5 separate regions of the Homo sapiens genome follow, and all the other regions are linked to region 1. The links come from fine-mapping of genetic effects on gene expression. A gene starts in region 1. Each other region holds a variant in brackets. All regions are shown on one strand. Distances are from middle to middle.

Region 1 (5,109 bases):
CTTAAAAATAATTGAAAAATTAAGTCATTAAAACCAGCTACCTTTTATCTATCCATTACATTAAATCATTTTGTTTTTAAGGAGGTCTTTGGAAACTAAATTAATCAGAAGGTTTGGTAGAGATTCTATCTCGCCAGTGGTTAAAGGTTCAAAGAAAAAGTCATTATAATGTTCGAGTTATGTTCAGTATTCTGGCAGAGGCAACAAGTCATTGTCAAGAGTTCTCAAATTGTTATCTATAAAAAATGTATCAGTGAGGTGCTGCAGGAGCAAGTACTGGCACAAGTTGATTATTAAATATTCAATTCGATGATGTTAAATTGTTGGCAGCTTGAAATTGTCTATAGTGGGAGTATTTATACCAGGGAATTAGGCAAATTCTTGAAATCAGGGCTTTCTCCACACCCCAACTCTTCCCAGCTGTTTTTCCAGCACACTGTTGAGTATGCTTAAATAAGCCATACATCTGAGGGTTCTTTTTGGGAGAACAGAAATGTCCTAAAACTGATTTATGGTGATGGTTGTATCACTCTGTAAAGTTAGTCAAAAGTATTGAATTGTACACTTGAAACGGGTATATTTTATGATATGTAAAATAACCTCAATAAAGTTGCTAATCGAAATGCCCCTAAACCAACAAACAAAATATCAACATTTATTAGTAATTTTAAGATTCAAGTACACACCCAACAGACTTAAAATGAAAAACAAGACCACATTTACCTAATGCATTTGGTAGATACATATTCTATGCAGTGATCATCAACCTAGGGTCTCACTTTGGAATTACTTGGAGAGTTTGACAAGAAAACACCCATCCCCAGAGATACTGAAATCATTTGTCAAGTCTGTGGTTTGGGTGTCAAGATGTTCCAGAGCACAGCCAAGGTCAAGAACCAGGACTGTAGAGCAGTTTTCCCAGATAACTGCAGGTTGCCCATTGCTATAGAAATCATCCTCATGTTTATTAATTGTTCACGCCTTCTGAAATAGGGAAATCTGGCCATGAATGTACCCTTTTTTTTTTGCAGGGAAGTGGTGTGACTCAGTTTTGTATTCAATGTCTATTCTTTGCACATGGAGGAAAGACACAGTCCTATTCCACCCGTGGGTTTCACCTGTAGTTGCTTCTTGCTGTTGACATCATGGTGGGGCACAGAGACAGCATCTAATTCATCTTTGTCATCTAAGTGTGTTCCCACAGTACTCAACCATAGACTCTGGGTTCTAGGATTGTTTGTTTAACTAAAGGACCAGAATTGAATATATTCCTCTATCTCCTCCTTTGGGGTTTTCTATTACAGTGGGCTGGGAATACAGTTAACAGAACATGTAAAGCATTGTAACTTAATAGTTCAATAAGACACTGAGGGCCACAGTTCAGCTTTAGCTTTTGGACTTGGTGACACCTGTGCTGGATGCTCACAGAAGGGCCTTTTACCTCTTCTGTTTGGGGATTCAATCTAGAGGGATAGAGAGATTCTAGAGCTCTGGCTTCCTAATAAGGGGAGTTTTCTTTAATGAAAATTCCAGGTGTTTTATCTGATTTGCCAAATGAAAGTAGAGTTCAATTCCGAGACCTCAGTTTTATAATCTAAAGACAGGAATTATTAATAAACTTTTACAGTAATACAACATAAAAAGATACAATCTCTGCAGCCTTAACACAGAGAGATTTCAACTCTATTTTGGTTTTTCTTTGGTTTCGGACATAGCCTGTGGTAGGTTGGATGCCCAGCTTTGCTATGTAATTGATGTGTGACTAGCAAGCAAGTTATTCAAACCTGTTTGGTACTTGTTTTCATCCTTTGTAAGATGAAGATGACAACAGCTCCTATGTCATTGGATTGCTATGAAGAGTTAGAGCTATTTGTCCAGGCAGAAGGTAAAGGTTTTGCCTCTCCTCATGCACAGGTGTCAAAGCCACCTTCATTGGGATATTCCCAGTGCATTAGGCAGTTTCTCTGGGAAATCCCCAATTCCTCTCTTGTGTAATACTTGTTTCTTATTAAATACCCGGATGAGTTGTCATCTGGGTCCCTTCTTAAAGACAGAGCTCCAATGACTCCACCTACCTATGCTTACCTGTTTGAAGCAGAAATTTTATCCTCTTCCTGGATTGTTGGTACTGAAAGGCTCAAAGTTGGCTCTCTGGACATACATACGATATCAAATCTCACAAATGCAGTATCAGGAGAAAGAAATATACAAGCGAGACTGTTGCAGGAACTTCCTCATTCTCTGTCTTTTGAAAAAGTCCCTCTCCCTTACAGTAGGGTAAGCTTTCTGTTTATCTTACCAGAAACACAGTCCTTTTACTGTCCCTGGGTCAGTGCTAGAAACTCTTGAACAGCGCATTTATTCATAAACCAGAGCAACATCAAGGAAGCCAGGCAACATCACCTCTATATCCCAATTCTGTCCCTCTTCTCAAAGAATGTCCAACATTTGATTTTTTTCCCTATTTTCTCAACCAACTTGTTTTCACATCTAGAAAAATAATGCCTGCTTTTCCAATGGAATTAGCCCCAGACAAGAAGATACTTAACAGATACAAATGAATAAAGTGGAAAAAAATAAATGGTTGAGGTGGCAGAGGGCAACAAGGCACTGAAGATAGTCATTAATCAAAGCATGCAGGTGGGAGTGCGGAGTCAATGTCCACCCACTAGGTACTTTGAAAGGAGATCTGCTGCCTTACCCCAAGTCCTGGAGCAGCTCAGCCTCTCCATCGGATCTGCTCCACAGATCTGAGGGATCCTGGGTGCTCATCTTCCCTTCTAGAAGTTCTGCTCTGCCCATTCGCGCCCTTCACAGAGGTAGAGAGAGAGACACAACTGGGCTGCTCCTGACACCTTCTCGCTCTGTGAGACAGCAGCCTGCTATGGCTCTGAGTCTCCAAGGCAAGGAAGTGAAACTTGGTTACTTACTCCTCCCACCAACACCACCACCCTGGCCTGGAGGCACTGGCAGGAGTGTTCTGTCAGTCAGGAAGTATGCAAACTTAGGTAGCTACCTCTGAGGACACCCACACTACATCACGCAACAGGCGGTTGCTATCAAAGGAAATGAAGAGGCAACCACCCCACCTGGGATTGGACAACAGTGCAAACTGCTTGTGTGAGGCCAAACCCTAGCTTCTCCCTAATGCTATCAGCCTCTGGTTTGTAGTGGAGGATGCGTGCACTCTTTTACCCCATCTTCTTTCTGTCTTACACACCAACACAGGGAACACTGAGGAAGCTTCTCTATCAGGAACACCTTTAGAGTGGATAGAAAAAGCAGAAGCAAACCACAAATTCGACCCTGAAGTTTGATGTTTTAGCACTTTTGCAATATTTCTGCTTGTTTACCCAGACCTTCTAATATATCCTCAATGCTCCGAATAGGGATGATTCAGAGACAATTATTGTTTCCTCCACAGAAAAAGAATTAGGAGAGGAGAAGGTAGGAAAAAGTTACAAGGGGCCATTCTGGTGCCCACCTAATGGGGCATATTAGAACTCCTGGAGTCTTTTTTTTTTTTTTTTTTTGAGACAGTCTCGCTCTGTCACTCAGTCTGGAGTGTAATGGCATGACCTGAGATCACTGCAACCTCCACCTCCCAGGGTTCAAGTGATTCTTCTGCCTCAGCCTCCCAAGTAGCTGGTATTACAGGCACCCGTCATCATGCTCTGCTAATTTTTGTGTTTTTATAGAGACAGGGTTTCACCCTCAGGTGATACACTCACCTCGGCCTCCCAAAGTGCTGGGCTTATAGGCATGAGCCACTGCACCTGGCCTGAACTCCTAGAGTCTTTGAGTGCCACTTCCTTCATGGGCTTACTCACACCTGCATGGCTTTGTGCCCAGATTCATATGTAGAGCAGGATTCTATCTGCCTGGAATGCTAAAGGTAAATTGCAGTGACTGAATCCTTGGGAAGTGGAACAAAGTGCAGTATCAAATGAGTCAAGGACATATGTTGCTTCCTGCCTTTTCTATGTACCTACAGGTCTCTCTCTCCCTCTCCCTTTCTCTCTCTCTCTTCCTATCTCTACTCCCTGACTCATTCAGCACTCACCACAGTGCTCTGTAACTTGTTCTCACAGTGTGGCCTGAGGACTAAACAGCACAGCAGAACTGTTCCTAAAGGACTAGATGATTGCAAAAGGCTGCTGTGCAATGGTTCTATCCTTCATCTTCCTCCCTATTACCACTGTTCACCCGGGATCGGTGAGACCCGGGTAACACTGGTTGCCAGTGGGAAGTTCCTGAGTGTCTGGAGGCAGTCTGCTGAAGACTAAGCTCTGATAATACATATATAACTGACTAAATGAGCACTTAAATTCTTTTGGCTACAGTTTGCTCACAGAGAAGGACAGGGCCCACTTGAACAGAGAGGCCAGTGCAGGCCAGGGAGATACTGAATATGCATACAGCAGTGACAGGGGAACAGCCTGGGCACTAGAGTTCCTGTTCCCTCTCTAGAGCCCTTTATTTGGTGTTTTAGTATCTATTTCATTCCCATTTTTAGCAAATTCTGGTTGTTCTTTTTCTTAACTTTTTTGGAAGTACAAGTAGCAGAATTTTCTAAGATCGTCCTGCTTTTCTGGCTGAATCTTCCTGCCTTTTGCCCTTCCTCATGTTGCTGTCCTGTCTGTTGCCCTCTCCTTTGATGTCATTGTCCCACTTTGTCATTTACTCAATTTTTCACAGTATCCCTACCACCCCGCCCACTCCACTAACTACACACTTAGTTTTGCAGTGGTAACAGCTGCAGGAGGCTTGCTAGATAGTTTCAACAAAATGCTGGAGCCCATCCCTCCCGGGACATCTATTGCTGTGTAACTGAAAGGGGATTTAGAATCTTGTTCTGGGCCGGGCGTGGTGGCTCATGCCTATAACCCCAGCACTTTGGGAGGCCGAGGCGGGTGGATCACCAGGTCAGGAGATCGAGACCATCCTGGCTAATACAGTGAAACCCTGTCTCTACTAAAAATTCAAAAAATTAGCCGGGCATGGTGGTGGACGCCTGTAATCCCAGCCACTCAGGAAGCTGAGACAGGAGAATGGCGTGAACCCGGAAGGCAGAGCTTGCAGTGAGCTGAGATCATGCCACTACATTCC
Region 2 (5,109 bases), 97 kb before region 1:
GTTTTAGATGTATGTAAAGAAAATATATAAGGCAATTTTTTGTTTGTTTGTTTGTTTGTTTGAGACGTAGTCTCTGTCACCCAGGCTGGAGTGCAGTGGTGCAATCTCTGCTCACTGCAACCTCCGCCTCCCAGGTTCAAGCGATTTTCCTGCCTCAGCCTCCCGAGTAGCTGGGATTACAGGCATGTGCCACCACACCCAGCTAATTTTTTTGTATTTTTAGTAGAGACAGGGTTTCACCATGTTGGCCAGGATGGTCTCTATCTCTCGATTGCATGATCCATCCGCCTCAGCCTCCCAAAGTGCTGGGATTACAGGCTTGAGCCACCACGCCCGGCTGGCAATTATGTTTTAAATGGAGGAAGATAAAGGGAAGTAAAGGGAGGTAAGGATTCTGTACTTAATTCAGACTAACAAAATGATGACACCAGAGGGTTATAAATTATGTATATATAACACATATAAATTATGTATATATAATGTATATATAATACCTAGAGCAACCGCTAAAAAGTTATACAAAGATATATACTCAGAACACACTGTTGATAAGTCAAAATGGAATTCTAAAAAATGTTCAAGAAACTAACTCACAGGATGTCAGGAAAAAGAAAACAGGAATGAAAGAACAGAAAATAAAAAATAAAATGGCAGGCTTAAACCCTAACTTATCAGTAATTACATTACATGTAAGTGACCTGTCTATGCCAATTAAAAGTCTTTTGGCATAATGCATTTTAAAAGCATGTTTTCACTAGGTGAAGTGGCTCATGCCTATATATTCCTAGCACTTTGGGAGGCAAAGGTGGGAGGATCACTTGAGCCCATGGGTTCAAGATCAACCTAGCCAACAGTGAGACCCCCATCTCTATAAAAAATTAAAAAATTAGCTGGATGTGGTAGCACGTGTCTGTTATCCCAGCTACTTGGGAGGCTGAGGTGGGAGAATCACTTGAGCCTGGGGGGTTGAGGCTGCAGTGACCTGTGATTGTGCCACTGCACTCCAGCTGGGGTAACAGAGCGAGACCTTGTTTCAAAAACAAAACATGATTTTGCTGTATGTTGTCTACAAGAAAATTATTTGATAACACTATATCCAGAATAAAAATAAGATTGAAAAAATATATCATGTAAATATTAATCAAAAGAAAACAGGAGTTGCTATATTAATATTAGAGCAAGTAGGTTTTAGAGTAAAAAAAATTACCAGAGAAGTACATTATGAACACATACATGATAAAAGGGTCAGTCCTTTAAGACATAAATGTATATGCACCGAAAGACAGCTGCAAAATATGTAAAGCAAAAACTAATAGAACTGGAGGAAGAAATAGACAAAGTCACAATTATAGTTGGAGACTCTGACACCTCTCTCTCAATAATTGATAGAACAATTAGACAGAAAATCAACAAGAATATAGAAGAACTAAACACCACCATCACTCAACAAGATCTAATCAACATTTATACAACATACCGCTCAACAACAGCAGACTACAAATTCTTTTCAAGTGCCCACAGAACACACAGGAAGAGAGACCATATCCTGATTCATAAGATAAACCTCCACTAATTTAAAATATTGAAATCATACAAGTATGTTCACTAACCACAGTGGAATCAAAGTGGAAATCAGTTACACAAAGGTAATAGGAAAACGTCCAGTCCTTGGAAACTGAACAACAAATTTCTAAGTATCCATGGGTCAAACAGGAAATATCAAAACAAATTTGAAAAAACATATTGATCTAACTTGGCCAGGCACAGTGGCTCACGCCTGTGATCCCAGCACTTTGGGAGGCCGAGGTGGGTGGATCGCAAGGTCAGGAATTTGAGACCATCTTGGCTAACACGATGAAACCCCATCTCTACTAAAAATACAAAAAAGTAGCCGGGCGTGGTGGCGGGCGCCTGTGGTCCCAGCTACTCGGGAGGCTGAGGCAGGAGAATGGCATGAACCTGGGAGGCGGAGCTCGCAGTGAACTAACTAAAAATGAAAATACAACAATTAAAATTTGAGAAGACCAGCTAAAGGAATGCTGAGAGGAAACTTGTAACATGAAATGCATATGTTAGAAAAGAAGAACAGCCTCAAATCAGTTATCTATGCTTCTACCTTACAAATCTAGAAAAAGAATAGCAAAATAAACTCAAAGCAAGCAAAAGAAATTATAAGAGTAGAAATCAGTACAATTGAAAAGAGTAACAATAGTGAATATCAATGAAACAGAGCTGGTTCTCTGAAAAAAATCAATAAAATTGAAAGACTGACCAAAAAAAGAAGACAGAAATGACCATTGTCAGAAATGGTGTCAGAGACAAGGATATCACTGCAGACATCAAACGGATAATAAGAGAATACTATGAACAATTCCATATACATAAGTTTACAAGTTAGATGAGATGGGCCAGTTAGTTGAAAAATACAAATCATCACAACTCAGTCTGACATAGATAACGTGAATAGCCCTGTAGAAATTGCTGTGGTTTGGGTATATTGAAATTTTTTAATTTTTATTTTTATTTTTTATTTTATATATATATTTTTATTATCCTTTAAGTTCTAGGGTACATGTGCACAACGTGCAGGTTTGTTACATATGTATACATGTGCCATGTTGGTGTGCTGCATCCGTTAACTCGTCATTTACATAAGGTATTTCTCCTAATGCTATCCCTCGCCACTCCCCCCACCCCACAACAGGCCCCAGTGTGTGATGTTCCCCTTCCTGCGTCCAAGGGTTCTCATTGTTCAATTCCCACCTATGAGTAAGAACATGCGGTGTTTGGTTTTTTGTCCTTGCGATAGTTTGCTGAGAATGATGGTTTCCAGCCTCATCCATGTCCCTAGAAAGGACATGAACTCATCATTTTTATGGCTGCATAGTATTCCATGGTGTATATGTGCCACATTTTCTTAATGCAGTCTATCATTGTTGGACATTTGGGTTGGTTCAGTATATTGAAATTTGATCCTCAATGTGGCAGTGTTGGGAGGTGTAGCCTAGTGGGAAGTGTTTGTGTTATGGGGGCAGATCCCTCATGAATGTCTTGCTGCTGTTCTCACAGTAGTAAGTTCTTGCTCTCTTGAGGCTAGATTAGTTCTTGAAGGAATTGATTATTTCCCGAATGAGTGGGTTGTTA[T/C]AAAGCCAGGACACCCCTCAGGTTTTCCCCTCTTTGCACCTGTCTGCTTCCCCTTTGATTTTCTCCACCATGTTATGCAGCACAAAAGCCCTCACCAGAAGCCAAGGCTATGCCCACAAACTTTTCAGCCTATAGAACCATAAGCTAGTCTCAGGTATTTTTCTATAGCAACACAAAATGGACTAAGACAGAACTGTTCAGTGAATTAAAGTTGTAATTATGAAATTCCCAAAAAAGAAATATCCAGGCTCAGATGCTCTTATTGAAGAAGTCTACCAAACTTTTTAAGGAAGAATTAAAACTAATTCTACATAATCTCTTCCAGAAAATAGAAGAGGAAGAGACATTTTCCAGTTAATGTTAAGAAATGTTTTACCTTGCTTATATCAAAACCAAAGACATTACAGAAAAAAAAAAAAAAAAAAACTACAGACCAGTATACTTTGTGGGATAAACCCAAATGTCCTTAACAAAATATCAGAATTTTGCAGTATATAAAAAGAATTATATACCCCAAACAATAGAAGTTTATTTCAAGGTAGCAAAGTCAATTCACTATTTGAAGATCAATAAGTGTAATCCACCACATTAATTAAAGAAAAAAAATCCCACGATTATATTAATCAGTGGAATAAAAGCATTTGATACATTTCACCACCCATTCATGATAAAAACTGTCAGAAAAATAGCAATAGAAGGGACCTGCCTCAACTTGATAAAGAGCAACTACAGAACTCCTGTAAGCTAACATTAAATGGTGAAAGACTGAATGCTTTTCCCCTATGATCAAGAATAAAGCAAGAATATCTCTTTACCACTCATATTCAACAAAGTGCAGGAAGTAGTAATCACTGCGTTAAAGAGAGAAAAAGGAAATAAAAGGCATACAGACTGGAAAAGAAGAGCTAAAACTGTTGTTATGTGCAAATGACATGATTATCTATGTAGAAATCCAAGGAATCTACAGAAAAAACTGTGACTACAAAGCAAATCCCGTAAGATTGCAGGACACAATATAAATCTACAAAAAATTAATTGCATTTCTATTTACTAGCAATGAATATTTAGACACTAAAATTAATAATACATTAGCATTTACAATCATACATACAAAAAAATACTTAGGTGTAAGTTTAATAAAACTTTTATCACATTTATATACTGAAAGCTATACAATATTGATTAAAGAAATCAGAAAATAGCTAAATAAATGGACTGAAATATCATGTTCATGGATGGGAAGATTCAACATAGTAAAGATGTCAAGTCGGCTGGGCACGGTGACTCACACCTGTAATCCCAGCACTTTGGGAGGCCGAGGTGGGCAGATCACCTGAGATCGGGAGCTTTAGACCAGCCTGACCAACATGGAGAAACCCCATCTCTACTAAAAGTACAACATTAGCGAGGCGTGGTGGCGCATGCCTGTAATCCCAGCTACTCAGGAGGCTGAGGTAGGAGAATCACTTGAACCTGGGAGGTGGAGGTTGCAATGAGCCGAGATCGCGCCGTTGCGCTCCAGCCAGGACAACAAGAGCAAAACTCTGTCTTAAAAAAAAAAAAAAGTCAAGTCATCACAGATTGATATACAGATTTAACACAATTCCTGTCAAAATCCTAGCAGGATTTGTTTTGTAGATAGAAACAAGTTTTATTCTAAAATTCATATGAGGGGAAGAAAGAACCTGAATATTTAAAAACATTTATTTCTGTTAAAAGAATGTAGTTGGAGTAATCAGTGTTCCTGATTTCAGGATTTACTGTATAGATAAACAGTAAACAAAACTGCGTGGTAATGGCAGAGAGATACACACATAGATCAATAGAACGAGATAGGAAACCCAGAAATAGACTGATACCAATATAGCCAACTGTTTTTTGACAAAGATGCAAAAGCAGTTCGATGGAGGAAAGATAGCCTTTTCAACAGTTGGTTTTGAGGCAATTGGACACCCATAGGCCAAA
Region 3 (5,109 bases), 85 kb before region 1:
TTCACCATATACTTTATGTGTAAGAGGTCAGGACATAAAGGAAATTTAATACAGCATGCAATCTAGACAACTTTAATACAGTGAACATAAAGGAAACTATAACATCATATTGGCTGTTATAGCAGCATGAATAAATAAGAAGCATATAAAGAAAAAATAATAAAAATCAGTGATTTTACAGTATTAAAATCACATTGGTCTAAAAATAACAATTACCTTATTTCTTCCAAATAAGATTTTTATTAACAAAAAATTGAGATAACTTTATAAAAACACAGTATATTTAAAAGTGTGGTTACTTTTTGTGACATGAAATCATGGTTTTAGGCAATTTGAGATAACGTAAATAAATTACAAGTTGATTTTTGTAATTTATAATACAAATAAGATTTTTATTAACAAAAAATTGAGATACTTTACAAAAGCATAGTATATTTAAAAATGTGGTTACTTTTTGTGACATGAAATCATGGTTTTAGGCAATGTGAGAGAATGTAAATAAATTAAAAGTTGAGTATTTCTTATCCAAAATGCTTGGGACCAGCAGTGTTTTGGATTTTGGGATTTTGGATTTTTTCAGATTTTGTAATATTTGCATATATTTTATGAGATGTCTTGAGGATGGTACCCAAGTCTAAAAATGAAATTTATGTTTTATATATACCCTATTCACACAGCCTGAAGGTAATTTTATACAATATTTTTAGTCACTTTGTACATGAAACAAAGTTTGTATACATTGAACTATCAGAAAGCAAAGGTATCACTATCTCAGCCACCCATGTGGACAACCTGTGGTTGTTTGGCATCATTCCTGACTCTGAATTTATATGCTACTGATAAGCAATAATTTTCTTACTCTAATTCACATATAAGTATTTAACAGTGAAAAAATAATGTATTCAGGTTTAAATAACCACCAGCATATTAGCATCACCAGAATACCCGTGTCAGCTGTTAAACAATAGCAACGACAAACAACTACAGGCTTTTAGTTTCCACCTATGATGCTGTGTTTTGATTAAAAGGTGACCCATCACATGAGGTCAGCTTTGGAATTTTTCACTTGTGCCATCTTGTCGATGCTCAGAAAGTCTTAGATTTTAGAGCATTTCGGATTTCAGAGTTTCGGATTAGGGATGCTCAACCTGTATTACCAATATTAACTTTTCAATGATTTTTAATTGTTTTTGTTTGCTTGGTTTATAGCAGCATATTGGAATGTCCAATTTTAATTAAAATAATGATGCATCTCTTTTACAGTGGAACTGGGCAAACTATTAAAATGCAAACAGAAAACTTGGGTGTTGTTTATTATGTCAACAAGGACTTCAAAAATGAATATAAAGGAATGTTATTACAAAAGGTAGAAAAGAGTGTGGAGGAAGATTATGTGACTAATATTCGAAATAACTGCTGGAAAGAAAGACAACAAAGTAAGTTTGTCATGTGTTTAACATTTTAAAACTTATTCGCAGTCTTTGGAACTGATTAATGTAGATTTCCCTATTCAAGGAATGTTCTGGAATTCCCTGGCACATAATTGGAGCACAGTACTTAAATGAGATCATGTGTTTTATATACATGTGGCCTAACATCGGAATTGACACATAGTAAGGACTTAATAAATGGTACTTGTCTATTGTTATCAATAAATATTTGGTTGAATAAGTAATACCAAATTTTATTGTATTGATAATATCCATCATAAGACACATCATTCTTTTATGTACCACCAAGAAACAAAAAATATCCTGGCAGATAAACTATGTCATCAATTTTAAGATGCATACTGTTTTCAGAGTTAAGTTTGAAACTCTATTAATTTAGCTTTTGTATTTAGAATTTAATGTACAATGAGTTTTGTTGACATTTCTTTTTTCTTTACTTTGTACACAGAGAGACTCTTCAGAACACTTCATTTGCTTAGGCTTTTCCAGCCTCAGTTTTCTTAATTTAAGGAACAGTTCCATCTATAAAGATTGATATAAGAATCTGCTGAGATGTTGCATGTGAATTGAGTGTTGTGGTTCTTGTTTTTGTGACCATTGTTGTGAATAATAATGTAGACCATATAGTGTAGTGTTAGGAGAACTGACTTTGGAATTAAACTGAGTAAAGTTGAATCCTAGCTCTGAAATTTTTAGCTGACGAATTGTAACCTCTATGAGTTTCATGTGTAAAATGGGTGATGATGAGTGGGAGGAGGAAATAATAGCTATCATTTATATAATGCCTGTTTCAGTCACTGTCCCAAGCACATTGTAAGTATTAACTCATTTAATCTTCACAACAACCCTGTGAGATTATACTTATTTTACACATGAAGAAACTGAAGCAAAGAGAGATTACTAACTTGCCCAAGGTCATAGAGGTCGTTTGTGATTGAAAACCAGACAATTTGTCTCTAGAATCCAGGCCCTGTGCTCCAACGTCTTCTCAGAAATAACCAACTTTATGGGGTTTGTTGTGAAAATTAAATCAGGCAATAAAGTACTTCACACATAGTGAATGCTCAGAAAATGTCAGCAATTATCATCATCTCCCCCTTGCTAGGGAAAAGTTGATAAAATGTAACTTCTAAGAGAGTCCTTAACCTCTCTGGTCTTGGTTTTCTCCTCTATTTAGTGGCAGTTAGAGATGTGACCTCTTTGACTTCTAACTCAATGAGTTTGTGAAATCAGTCTGTCCTCAGTGTGGAGAAGCTTACATTAGACTAGTGATTTTTATGTTTTCAGCTGGGAGTGAGTTGCCACCCTTCCCCCACCCCACCCATCCCTAGAGATGTTTGGTAACGTCTGGAGATACTTTTGTGTGTCATCATGGGATGGGAATGGAAAGGGATTGCTACTAGCATCTAGCGGGTTAAGGCCAGGGATGCTGCTAAACATCCTACAATGCACAGACCCCCC[A/CA]CAACAAAAAAATTATCCAGCCCAAGCAGTACTTGAAATAATGGAAAGAATATTAGGCTAGGCATTGGAGAGTTGGACTGGAATCTAGACTCTGCCATTCGTTAGCAGTGTGAACTTCGGTTTATCTAAGTCTCAAATTTCTTCTTTGGGAAGAGTCATCTGTAAATAGATATAAGCGCATTATGTGTAAATAAAAGGCATAGGATAATATTGATTGAGTTGTTAATCCTAGTCCAGTTGATTTAGTAAAGATTATTTCTGGAGATCTTTACAAATGGAATACTGTCTTAACTGTGAGTATATCTTGAATGTGATCTTGACTAATCCATATAAACCAGATGTCTTCTACTTTGGCCATTGTGTTCCAGAAAGTAACTGATTTCTTTTTCTGTTACATCTTCTTTAAGTGCTCCTAGTCTTTACAGGTATTAATAAACAGTGAAATGACTGAGAGTAACAGGAAAAAACAAGAAATACTCCTTGAAGAATTTTGATTTGTAGTCTGTATATCATTAGTAGCTGTGCTGTCCCACACACTGAAGGAAGCCTCAGAAGTACTTATTTGCTGAATAGCAATATTACGATCGTATAACAAGCATTTTTTTTATCTGTGTTCCTTCAGTAATATTATTATATGTATTTTTTAATTTAAGTAAACTCAGAACAAGATTTTAAATTTTTTATTAAATACTTAAGTCTTGGGATAATCTGAAATCTTAACAGAAGGCCACAGTGAAACAACCACTGGCAGTATTGAAAAGCATATAATATTTTTAGGAAAAGAGTCCAAGATGATGCTTCAGAGGAATAGTTTTTAAACCACTGGGGAACAGGAGTAGAGAGAAAGGATTCCAACGTGAGTTGACAGGATTCTATCCTTATTTATTTTCTGTGTTTGTTTTACCTGCTATACTTCAAATAAAGTTTTCATTAAAATTTTTTTCCTACTAAAATGGCTTTTAGGAATTGTACTTTGATTTTTTTTAAGTCAGTTAATCAAAATATATCAAAGGGCTCCTGTAAAGCATCACTTGAGCTTAAGCAACTAGGTGACAAAAATTTTATTCAATTAGCAAAATATTTTTCTTTATTAACAGAAACAGATATGCAGTATGCAGCAAAAGTATACCGTGATGATCGACTCCGAAGGAAGGCAGATGCCTTGAGCATGGACAACTGTAAAGAATTAGAGCGGCTTACCAGTCTTTATAAAGGAGGATGAACTGGAATTTTTATTTATACCTTTTAGCGTACTCTTTATTTTTTCTGTAAGTAAGTTTGGTTTCATCATGAGGGATGAAGGAAAAGATTTGATACTGAAAACTAAACTGAATAGTTGGTTCCTGAAATCTTGGACTGTTTATGACCTACTGGCTCCTTTAAATAGTAACTGAAAACTAAAATGGAATATTTTAGTTAACGCTTCTACAAGTATTTTCATTTTAAAAGCTTACATGATTCCTAACTAAAGTGTCATGAGAAAGGATTATCACACCTGTAGCAATTTCCAGTTTTAGTGATTCTCCATTTTTTCCCTTGTCATGTAAATATTTATGGAATGATCATTTTGTGTACATACAGGTTACTGCTTTTTTATTTAAATTCTTTTAGTGTTTAGCTCCATGAGACACTTCAGTTTAAATTGATGGAATAAATGTTATATGACACATTTACATTTTCCTTATCAAGGTGTCAAATATGTGGACTTTAAACAATGAAACTTTTTCAAAAAGAAAAAACAAAAACTTTAACTTTGTGTAAAATCTTATAGTATTATCAGCTTAGAGGGAATTGATATTTTTAATATTGCCGTTATATTCCAAAATATATATTGAGATAAATGAACTGGTGTAGAATATCAGTTTGCTATTTAGTTTTATGAATTACTATACATATACATGCATAGAAATGAAATGCTATACTGATAAATTTTAAAGAAAATATGAGGAAATGGCTATAAATATTAAACTAAAAGGGTCTTCAACAGTAAAGTGCAGTTATGTCATTTAAAATTCCAATACTTTAAAGGCCACCAAATTTTGATGTATATGTCCTTGAAGGGCTGCTAAAATTTATGAAGAGGACTCACATTTTCCCCCATAGAAATTTGCAGTTTCTTGGTGATCATTTAAGCAGGATCCAAAGAAGTTCCTTTACAAATAAGTAATAAGAAAAATGAGTACTAAAATACAGCTTT
Region 4 (5,109 bases), 140 kb before region 1:
TAACCAATGACTTTAAGCTCCTCTACCCCCGCATTCCACTACAAAACAGAGTTGAGAAAGTCTAAGGGTGTAGAAAAGCCTTTATTTTAAAACATTTTATTTCAGTAGTTTTTGGGGAACAGGTGGTTTTTGGTTACATGAATAAGTTCCTTAATGGCAGTTTCTGAGATTTTAGTGTACCCGTCGCCCGAGCAGTGCCCACCAATGTATAGTATTTTATCCCTCACCCCCTCCAACCCTTCCCCAAGAGTCCCCAATGTCCATTATATTATTCTTACACCTTTGCATCCTCATAGCTTAGCTCCCATTTATAAGTGAGAACATATGATGCTTGGTTTTTTATTACTGAGTTACTTCACATGGTATAATTGCCTCCAGCTCCATCCAGGTTGCTGCGAATGCCATTATTTTGTTCCTTTTTATGGCTGAGTAGTATTTATAATATATATACATATACGATATTTTCCTTATCCACTTGTTGGTTGATGGTCATTTAGGAGGGTTTCATATTTCTGCAATTGTGAATTGTGCTGCTATAAACATGAATGTACATGTTTCTTTTTCACATATGACTCTTTTTCCTTTGGGTAGATACCCAGAAGTGGGATGGCTCAATCAAATGGCCATTCAAATTTTAGTTCTTTAGGGAATCTCCATACTGTTTTCCATAGTGATTGTACTAGTTAACATTCCCACCAGTAGCGTAAAAGAACTCCGTTTTCACAACATCCACACCAACAGCTGTTATTTTTTGATTTTTTAATTATGGCCATTCTTGCAGGAGTGAGGTGGTATCTCATTGTGGTTGCAATTTGCATTTCCCTGATAATTAGTGATGTTGAGCATTTTTTCATATGTTTGTTGACTGTTTCTATATCTTCTTTTGAGAATTGCCTATTCATGTCTTTTGATTATTTGGTTTTTTTCTTGGTGATTTGTTTGAGTTCCTTGTAGATCCTGGATATTAGTCCTTTTGTCAGATGCATAGTTTACAAATATTTTTTCCCACTATGTGGGTTGTCTGTTTACTCTGCTGACTATTTCTTTTGCTATGCAAAAGCTTTTTAGTTTAATTAGGTCCCATTTATATATTTTTGTTTATGTTGCATTTGCTTTTGGGTACTTAGCCATGAATTCTTTACCTAAGACAATGTCTAGAAGAGTTTTCTAATGTTATCTTCTAGAAATTTTATGGTTTCAGGTCTTAGATTTAACTATTTGATCCATCATAAGTTGATCTTTTTTATAAGGTGAGAGATGAGGACCCAGTTTCATTTTTCTACATGTGGCTTGCCAGTTATCTCAGGATTATTTATTGAAAGAAAAGCCTTTGGACTCTTCTCTGAGCCATTTCCATCCTATTGAAAGGACTGGGGAGTCACATACATCTGTTTTGGGATTTTAATAAAAGGTGTGATGGTCACACTTTTTATACGGTTCCTGCCCTGAGGCTGAATCTGTGGAGGGGTGTGAAGTATATGTTGTATAACTTTACACTCTATTTTGTGGCGCCTCTCTTTTAGGACAAATGTGGCACTTAGATTCCCTTTAAGAAAGCTGTATGGAATTTCAAACATAAGGAATTTAGCCCATGAGTTTTTCTCAGTTATGATTCTTTTGTAACATTGGGCACAAGAAATGTACATAACAACCAAGAGTTTTGGTAATACCCAATTTAGTGACAGAATCCATGTCAACATTTCATCTTTGGTGAACAGTCAAGTATCACAGATCAAAAACAGGTTTGAAGTTCATTATGCAAAGCTAGCAATACACATGCAGAAATGTGAACACCATCTTGTTAGATGTTATAACTAAAGAGAGTTTTCTAGTTTAGTGTAAAGTTGTTGTGCCCACTGTGAAATCACACTTTACTTTTCTAGGTCTTTTTCTTTGGCTGCCTTTTAATTTTCTTTCTTTTATTTTTAATTCAAAATTTTTATTTATTTAT[T/C]TTTTTTATTTTATTATACTTTTAAGTTCTAGAGTACAAGTGCACAATGCGTAGGTTTGTTACATATGTATACATGTGCCATGTTGGTGTGCTGCATCCATTAACTCGTCATTTACATTAGGTATTTCTCTTAATGCTATCCCTCCCGCCTCCCCCAGTGTGTGATGTTCCCTGCCCTGTGTCCAATTGTTCTCACTGTTCAATTCCCACCTATGAGTGAGAACATGCAGTGTTTGATTTTCTGTCCTTTCGATAGTTTGCTGAGAATGATGGTTTCCAGCTTCATCCATGTCCCCAAAAAGGACATGAGCTCATCCTTTTTTATGGCTGCATAGTATTCCATGGTGTATATGTGCCACATTTTCTTAATCCAGTCTATCATTGATGGGCATTTGGGTTGGTTCCAACTCTTTGCTATTGTGAATAGTGCTGCAATGAACATATGTGTGCATGTGTCTTTATAGTAGCATGATTTATAATCCTTTGGGTATATACCCAGTAATGGGATGGCTGGGTCAAATGGTATTTCTAGTTCTAGATCCTTGAGTAATTGCCACACTGTCTTCCACAATGATTGAACTAGTTTACAGTCCCACCAACAGTGTAAAAGTGTTCCTATTTCTCCACATCCTCTCCAGCATCTGCTGTTTCCTGACTTTTTAATGATTGCTTTCTCTTATTGCCAACATACTTAGTAGGAAATTCCACTTGGATTCCCCTAATGTCAATGTACAGTCAATATTTCATAACTTTCCTGACTTACCTCTTTCTCTACCCCTCTTAATTTGCATCTATCCTTTTACCTCTCCTATTCTATAGATGATCTTTTACTTTATATCCCAGACCACCAACCTCAAAAACCTGGCTCTTTTCTCTTAAGTGCTTAGTATCCACCATCCCCCCTACATCTTCCTAAACAGCATATTTAATAACAAAATATTAGTGCTTTTTCTTTCAAGATGTTTTACAACCTTCTCTTGGTTTCAGTGTTATGTAAGTTTTAGGCTGTATTAGTCTGTTTTCATGCTGCTAATAAAGACACACCTGAGACTGGGCAATTTACAAAAGAAAGAGGTTTAATTGGACTTACATTTCCACGTGGCTGGGGAAGCCTCACAATCATGGCAGAAGGCAAGGAGGTACAAGTCCCATCTTACATGGATGGCAGCAGGCAAAGAGAGAATGAGTTTGTGCAGGAAAACTCCTGTTTTTAAAACCATCAGATCTCGGCCAGATGTGGTGGCTCACACCTGTAATCCCAGCATTTTGGGAGGCTGAGGCAGGCGGATCACCTGAGGTCAGGAGTTTGAGACCAGCCTGGCCAACATGATGAAACCCCATCTTTACTAAAAATACAAAAAAAGAAAAAAAAAAAAGCTGGGTGTGGTGGTGCACGCCTGTAGTCCCAGCTACTCTGGGAAGCTGAGGCTTGAACTTGGGAGGCAGAGGTTGCAGTAAGCTGAGATCGTGCCACTGCATTCCAGGCTGGGTGACAGAGGGAGACTCTTTCTCAAAAAAAGCAAAACATAACAAAACAATGAAACCATCAGATCTCGTGAGTCTTATTCACTGTCATGAGAACATCACATGAAAGAGTTGCCCCCATGATTCAATTACTTCCCACTTGGTACCTCCCACAACACATGGGAATTCAAGATGAGATTTGGGTGGGGACACAGCAAAACTGTATCATAGGCTTTATACCTAACTGATATCAACTTTATCAGCCTTCTAACAAAATTTTTCTCTTTTCTGATTTGCCCTGTAACCCATATTAGATTAGTATCCTAAAAATGAGGAACCCTGTATTCTTTCTTTCTCAGAAATATTAATTGGTTCCTCAGTCTCTCAGGGTAAAGTCTGCTATCTTTCTCCAAGTATTTAGGGTATTGACTCATTATAATAGTTAGGATTGGGTTCAGCTGCAAGTGAAAGATGACCCAAAATAAAAGGGGCTCAAACAAAATAGATGCCCATGTTCAGAGAGATCCAGGGTAGGTTTGAGACTCCATAGTATCTAAGGCCTTTGCTCCATTTATCTTGTTATTCCCTCATGTGTGGCCTATATTCCTAAGCTCATTTCATGGTTCAAGATGGCTCTCCAATTCTGTCTTCAATCCAGTCAGCAAAAATAAAAAATTGGTTTGCCTCATTTAAGGAAACTTCCTGGATGTTGCACCCACCACTGAAGTTTACACCTTTTGGTCAAAACTTATTTTCAAGACCAAATTTAGCTTTATTCTGATGAACATTAGCTATGGTTGGAATGTTTTTGTCCCCTTCAAAAATTATGCTATAACTTAGTTCACAATGCAAAAGTGTTGGCAGGTGTGGCCATTGGGAGGAGATTGAGTCATGGGACCACCCTCATGATTGAGATTAGGTGCCCTCATAAAAGGGCTTCATGGAGAGGGTTCATCCCTTTTCAACTTTCTTTGCCTTCCACAATGTAAGGACACAGTGTTCTCCACTCTAGAAGATACAACATCAAGGCTCCATCTTCGAAGGAGAGAGCAGCCCTCAACCAGACAGCCAAACCTGCCACTGCTTTGATCTTGGACTTCCCAGCCCCTAAAACTGTAAGAAATAAATTTCTGTTCTTTATAAACTATGCAGTCTCAGGTATTTCATCACAGTAGCACGAAACAGACTAAAACACTATGTGTCCTACCTTCTAAGTGCTACTTCTTACACCAATTCACCATTCCAATCAAACACTCTCCTTAGTCCATTTAAACGTAAACTCTTCAAAACGCTCCAGCTTGCAACTGTCTCTGTCCTTTAAACTAGAGGTACTGTTGATTTGGCAGCCAATCAGATACTTATTTTGTAACAGCCTTATTTATTTATTTATTTATTTAGATGCAGAGTCTCGCTCTGTCACTCAGGCTGGGGTGCAGTTGCATGATCTCCATTCACTGCAACCTTCGCCTCCTGGCTTCCAGCAATTCTCATGCCTCAGTCTCCCAAGTAGCTGGGACTTACAGGCATGCACCACCATGCTCAGTTAATTTTTGTATTTTTAATAGAGACAGGGTTTCGCCATGTTGGCCAGGCTGGTCTCCAACCCCTTGCCTCAAGCAATCCACCCACCTCGGCCTCCCAAAGTGCTGGGATTACAGGCGGAAACCACCACACCCAGCCTGTAACAGCCTTCT
Region 5 (5,109 bases), 150 kb before region 1:
GCACAGGGGTGGGGCGCCAGTGGGTACAGGACTGTGTGTGCCCTCTGTGCCTGTTCCTGTAGGTGGAGGTGGTCCTCAGGGTGGAGGTAGATCCACTGTCCTCCATGCCTATGTTTCATGCCAGCGGCAGTGTCAGCACAGGGCTGGGGCATTAGCCAGGGCAGGGCTAGCGGGCTCGTGCCTGCCAATGCTCCAACGACAATGGCAGTGCGGTTGGGGGAAGGATGGGTGCACTTATGCAGGCAGCAGTGGCATGGCAGGGTGCACCTGTACACGCACGCTGGTAAGAAAGGAAAGGAAAGGTCCACCCATGCCAGCAAAGTGATGCAGAGGGATGGCCATAAGTGAGTAGCCATCACACAGGGCAAAGCACACAGGGCAGGCTGCCAAGTGGGGAGGGTGCAGGTGGGCTGGTGAGAGTCTGCCAGCCTCTCTGCTAGAGCACTCTGCTGGTCAGGCCAGGTCCACCAGCCAGAAGCTATAATGTGGGTCCCCAGGAGGTACCTGGGGGCTGCACTGCAAGCAGGCGTGGTCAAGCCGGGTCCCCAGGAGAGACCAGCAGAATGAAGGGTGCTCAGGTCAGACCGCCCTGTGTCACAGGTAAGACCACCCAGCAGAGTTCAGGTTGCACAGTACTACCAGGGCTCAAGTCTCCTATGGGATCAAGTCGAACCTAGGGGAATGGGCATCACTGGCCATTCTCCACTAAGGATGCTCCCACATCAAACCAACTGGGCTCCATGCTGGCTGTAGTTCTGCCCCAACCACTTATCTAAGCAGCTCTCCCTGCCAACGCAAGTGTCCATGGTGATCACAGGGTCTCCTCCTGCCAGGATTCCAGAGTCCTGTGGTAAAAGTGGGTTGTTCCTTGCCTGTTCAAGTCACCCCTTCCCCAGGAGTTGCTGGACACCAGGAATGAGTCTTGGTGAACAGTAGCCCTGTGCAAGGTTCCCAGTTTCCTTCCCCTTCAGCTCAGCATCTGTGTCTTTTCTCCATCTGTTCTCAATGGCTTCCCTCTGAAGTTCTGCTAGGAGTGCACCAGTCTTACCAATGTCTCGGTCACTTGGTTGCAGATGTTCCTCCTGCCTGCATCTAGTTGGCCATCTTGGAGCAGGATAAAACAGGGCTGACTTGTTAAAAATCATTACATAAATGTATAAGTTAGTATTTTTTTTACTCTAAAGAAACTGAGGATTTATATCCTATTTATCTGGCTCATTGGCAGTTTATCTGGTGATACAGTCTGTTGATTCTGGAAAGAGATGACTGAATGCTCCCCATACTAAAGAACGCCATTGAAAATGGCAAAAACAAAGCCAAAATTTGGTACCAGGATAAAAACAGAAATGGGTTAATCATTAAGATATTGGTTATTTGTATTATTTTATTTCCTGTCATACAAAAACAACATACTGCTTGCAGTTTTATTATAATCTAATATATATAATCTAAATATGACCTGCAGGTACTACTAGAATTATTAAGTAAAAATAGAATTATTGCAGATATTCTGTTAGGTCAAATTTTATTTTATTACGTCAGAGTTAGAAAGATTCTATGGGACAAGGAACAGTAGTTCACACCTGTAATCCCAGGAATTTGGGAGGCTGAGGCGGGAGGATCACTTGAGCCCAGGAGTTCAAGACCAGCCTGGGAAACATAGTGGGACTCCATTTCTACAAAAAATAAGAAATAAAAAAATTATTCGAGTGTGGCGGCACACACCTGTAGTCCCAGCTACTCAGGAGGCTGAAGTGGGAGGATCACTAGAGCATGGGAGGTCAAGGCTGCAGTGAGATATGATTGTGCCACTGCACTCCAGCCTGGGTGACAGTGAGACCCAGTCTCTAAGAAATGAAATCAAATTTAATAAATAAAATAAAATAAAAAGATTCTAACAGAACTATTAGAAAATAGTAGTTTTATATCAGGACCATTATATTAGAATCTTAGAGATGCAAATCTAATAATTAGAGAGACTATATATTGGTAATGCTAAAATAAGTTAACTTGGTGATCAAGATGCCAGCTCTGATCTTGACCCAGGTGCTTTTGGGGCTCCTGGGCTCCCAAAGAATACCAATATTCTTAAATGTGAATTATCCTAGATTCTTAGACAACAAGTCTAAGACAGACTTTATTATTTAAAATATTTGTATATTGTTTTATTACCACACCTCTTTCTTTCCCAGAGTATCTCTTCTATATCCAGCAAATTTTCAACGGCTTCCTTGCAAGGTATTTGTTCCCTATTTTGAAGCTTTCCCAGTTAAGTGAAACCTAACTTCTCAGTAATATATGCAGTTTCAATACAGGGCATCTGGAAGCTCATCAGCAAGATGTGCTTCTGCCAGAGATGAATGAAGAGGGGGGAGAATGGAACCAAGAGGCTGGAGAGTATGATTGGGGGAAAAATTATAAAGGGGCCAGGGGAAGATATAATGGTTGACCATAGATAGAGGCTTTTGGAAAGAGTGAAGATAGCTGTGAACTTGAGAAGAAATTTAGGAAAAGAAAAGAGATGTGTAAAAAGCAGATTTTCTGAAATTTGCCATATGATTTGCTATTTGAACTCACTCTTCTTCACTTTCTAACCTTAATGTGAGTTTGATTTTCAGGTTGTAGTCTTTTCTAATGCTTACCTGTCAAGGTGAAATAAATAGTGGACCCTCTGTATCCGTGGATTCCACATCCATGGATTCAACCAACAGTGGATCAAAAATATTTGGAAAACAAATTGTGTTT[G/C]TACTGAATGTCTTTCCTGTCATTATTTCCTAAACAATACAGTGTATCAACTATTTATATTGTATTAGGTATTATAAGTAATCTAGAGATTAAAGTACACAGGAGTATGTGCATAGGTTATATGCAAATACCACAACATTTAATATCAGCGACTTGAGCATCTGATGATTTTGGTATCCACCGGGGTTCGTAGAACCAATCTCCAGAGATAACCAGAGACAACTGTACTTAACTATAAAGGTAAAAAATTTTCAGTCATCTACTATCTGAAATCATCTCTACTTAAAAGTTGTACATGGAAATATGTGGAGAAAGAGGAGGGCTTAGGACCAAGCCCTGGGAAAGTGCCATCTTGAAGTCAGGTAGTGAAGAGAAAATAAATGAAAGAAAGCAATAAAAGGAGAAGAGAAGCAACCATATGGTATCCTGGAAGTCAAGAAATGGCAGTATCTGGTGGAAAGTGTGGTCATGCTGCTGAGAGGTAAAAAGAAGGAAGAAAACTGACCCTTGGGTTTGGCAACATGGCAATTAACAGTGACAAGAACCATTTGGGAGGCCTGATGGGAATGAAAGTCAAATATAAGTGGTTGAAGAGAGATTTGGAGGTGAAAAAGTGACAACCACCTGCAAAGAAAAATCCCATGAAAAGGTTTCTGTGAAAGGGAGCAAAGACAATGTGGCAGCTGGAAGGAGGCCTATGGGAAGCAGAGGAACTCTTTCTTAGCTGTAGTGGGGGAAAAGCAGAAGATGGGTGCAGATGCAGGGAGAATTGTATAACACTGGTAGGAAGAGCAGATTCTCATGGAATGAGGTCATCACTGAAATTGAGGGCAGGGAGTGGGTTAGATCACTGATTCTTAAAACATAGCTGTGCATTGAAGTCATCCAGCAGGTTTTAAATACTGTTTATGCTCAAATCTCACTCCCAAGAGACTCTGATTTAATTGGTATGGGGTGAATCCTACCATTCACGAGTTTCAAAAGCTCCCCACTTTCCACCTCCCCTCCATTCTCGGCCCCAGGATTCTGATATGCACCAAATTTTGAGAAATGCCAGTTAATAATTTTTGAGGATACAGAAGATACTAGGCACCAACTAGTTGCATAGATCCAGACTGCTACGTAGGAAAAATAAAATAAAAGTCATTTCTTGCTTTCAAGGCACTGTAAATCTGTAGGCTATTCAAAAATCTAAAATCATTCCAGAAAATATGAAAGTAATTTAGGAGCATTAGCAATTTAAAGTATATTAAAGAAAGCAGGGTACAAACCATATTCAATGATGCAGAATCAAGGGGAATAAGAGATCAATTTTGGAGATGGTGGCTCAGGGAATGTTCACTAAAGGAGAGTATTGAGCCATATTTTGAAGAAGTAAAGTGCAAAAATTGACAGCTATCTGAAGCACATTTCAGATAGAGGAAGCAACAAAAGCTTTGTAAACAAAAGCAGGTGATCAGGGAAACTATGGAGAAAACACATTGCTGAGCAACTGAAGGATAGGAGTGGGAGAGAGAATTTTCACTCTATACCACTTTTTTTAGCCTTTTAAATGTTGAAACATTGACAAGTTTAGCCTTTTCAAGAATCAATCAATTAATAAATAATGGCTTTTTAAATGGGAAAAGAATCATCTAGATTGAGACCATTAAAAAATGAAAAAATGAGAGTAAAGAGATACAGATGAGCCCATTATAAAAGTATTGAAAGTACTAGCAGTGCCCACAGGAATATAATCTATTTTCTCTACCATTCACCTGAAAAGACAGAATAACATTTTATCTAAATAAGACCTAACATCACCGTAGTGAAATGATCCTTAGCAGGCACAAAGTAAAAAACCAATGTGGGCCAGGCACAGTGGCTAACACCTGTAATCCCGACACTTTGGGATGCTGAGGCAGGTGGATTACTTGAGGTCAGGAGTTCGAGACCAGCCTGACCAACATGGTAAGAGCCCCATCTCTACTAAAAATACAATATTAGCCGAGCATGATGGTGCATGCCTGTATTCCCAGCTCCTTGGGAGGCTGAGGCAGGAGAATAGCTTGAACCTGAGAGGTAGAGGTTGCAGTGAGCCGAGATCGCGCCACTGCACTCCAGCCTGGACAAGAAGATCGAAACTCTGTCTCAAAACAAACAAACAAACAACAACAACAATGAAAAACAATGTGGAACTCTATCCTTGTGTGTCTAATTCTCCCACTGACAGAAATACTACAGCCAGACCAAATGTGTTTCTTGTTGCTGTTTATTAGGAGAAATTTTTGCTTTTGTTTTCAAAGTACTTTGTAGCCCTTAAGCCATTAATTACTTTAAAGAGATATTCATATTCTTTCATTTGGCCTCTTTTTCTAAAGAAAG

What was found. PIP is the estimated chance that this variant, and not a neighbour inherited with it, causes the effect.
Region 2: its variant is the best candidate, but not a certain one, in a credible set for the expression of DAPP1 in whole blood (TOPMed, PIP 0.58).
Region 3: its variant is the best candidate, but not a certain one, in a credible set for the expression of DAPP1 in blood mononuclear cells (TOPMed, PIP 0.82).
Region 4: its variant is the best candidate, but not a certain one, in a credible set for the expression of DAPP1 in whole blood (TOPMed, PIP 0.62).
Region 5: its variant is the best candidate, but not a certain one, in a credible set for the expression of DAPP1 in whole blood (TOPMed, PIP 0.73).

The regions. Positions count from the first base shown.
Region 1 is chr4:99,814,607-99,819,715 of GRCh38, reverse strand. DAPP1 (dual adaptor of phosphotyrosine and 3-phosphoinositides 1) reads right to left here and starts at 2,889. Exons shown (of 9, transcript NM_014395.3): 1 at 2,702-2,889. The coding sequence starts at 2,802.
Region 2 is chr4:99,912,083-99,917,191 of GRCh38, reverse strand. The region is part of intron 3 of DNAJB14 (DnaJ heat shock protein family (Hsp40) member B14); the gene reads left to right. Among named protein-coding and RNA genes, the nearest start is that of LAMTOR3, 20 kb to the right of the region's middle. The variant T/C (reference allele first, on the strand shown) is at 3,145.
Region 3 is chr4:99,900,053-99,905,161 of GRCh38, reverse strand. DNAJB14 (DnaJ heat shock protein family (Hsp40) member B14) reads left to right here. Exons shown (of 8, transcript NM_001031723.4): 7 at 1,264-1,436; 8 at 4,010-5,109. The coding sequence ends at 4,134. Among named protein-coding and RNA genes, the nearest start is that of LAMTOR3, 8.2 kb to the right of the region's middle. The variant A/CA (reference allele first, on the strand shown) is at 2,913.
Region 4 is chr4:99,955,542-99,960,650 of GRCh38, reverse strand. All of the region lies in intron 1 of H2AZ1-DT (H2AZ1 divergent transcript), which reads right to left. Among named protein-coding and RNA genes, the nearest start is that of H2AZ1-DT, 7.6 kb to the right of the region's middle. The variant T/C (reference allele first, on the strand shown) is at 1,952.
Region 5 is chr4:99,966,975-99,972,083 of GRCh38, reverse strand. All of the region lies in intron 1 of H2AZ1-DT (H2AZ1 divergent transcript), which reads right to left. Among named protein-coding and RNA genes, the nearest start is that of H2AZ1-DT, 19 kb to the right of the region's middle. The variant G/C (reference allele first, on the strand shown) is at 2,746.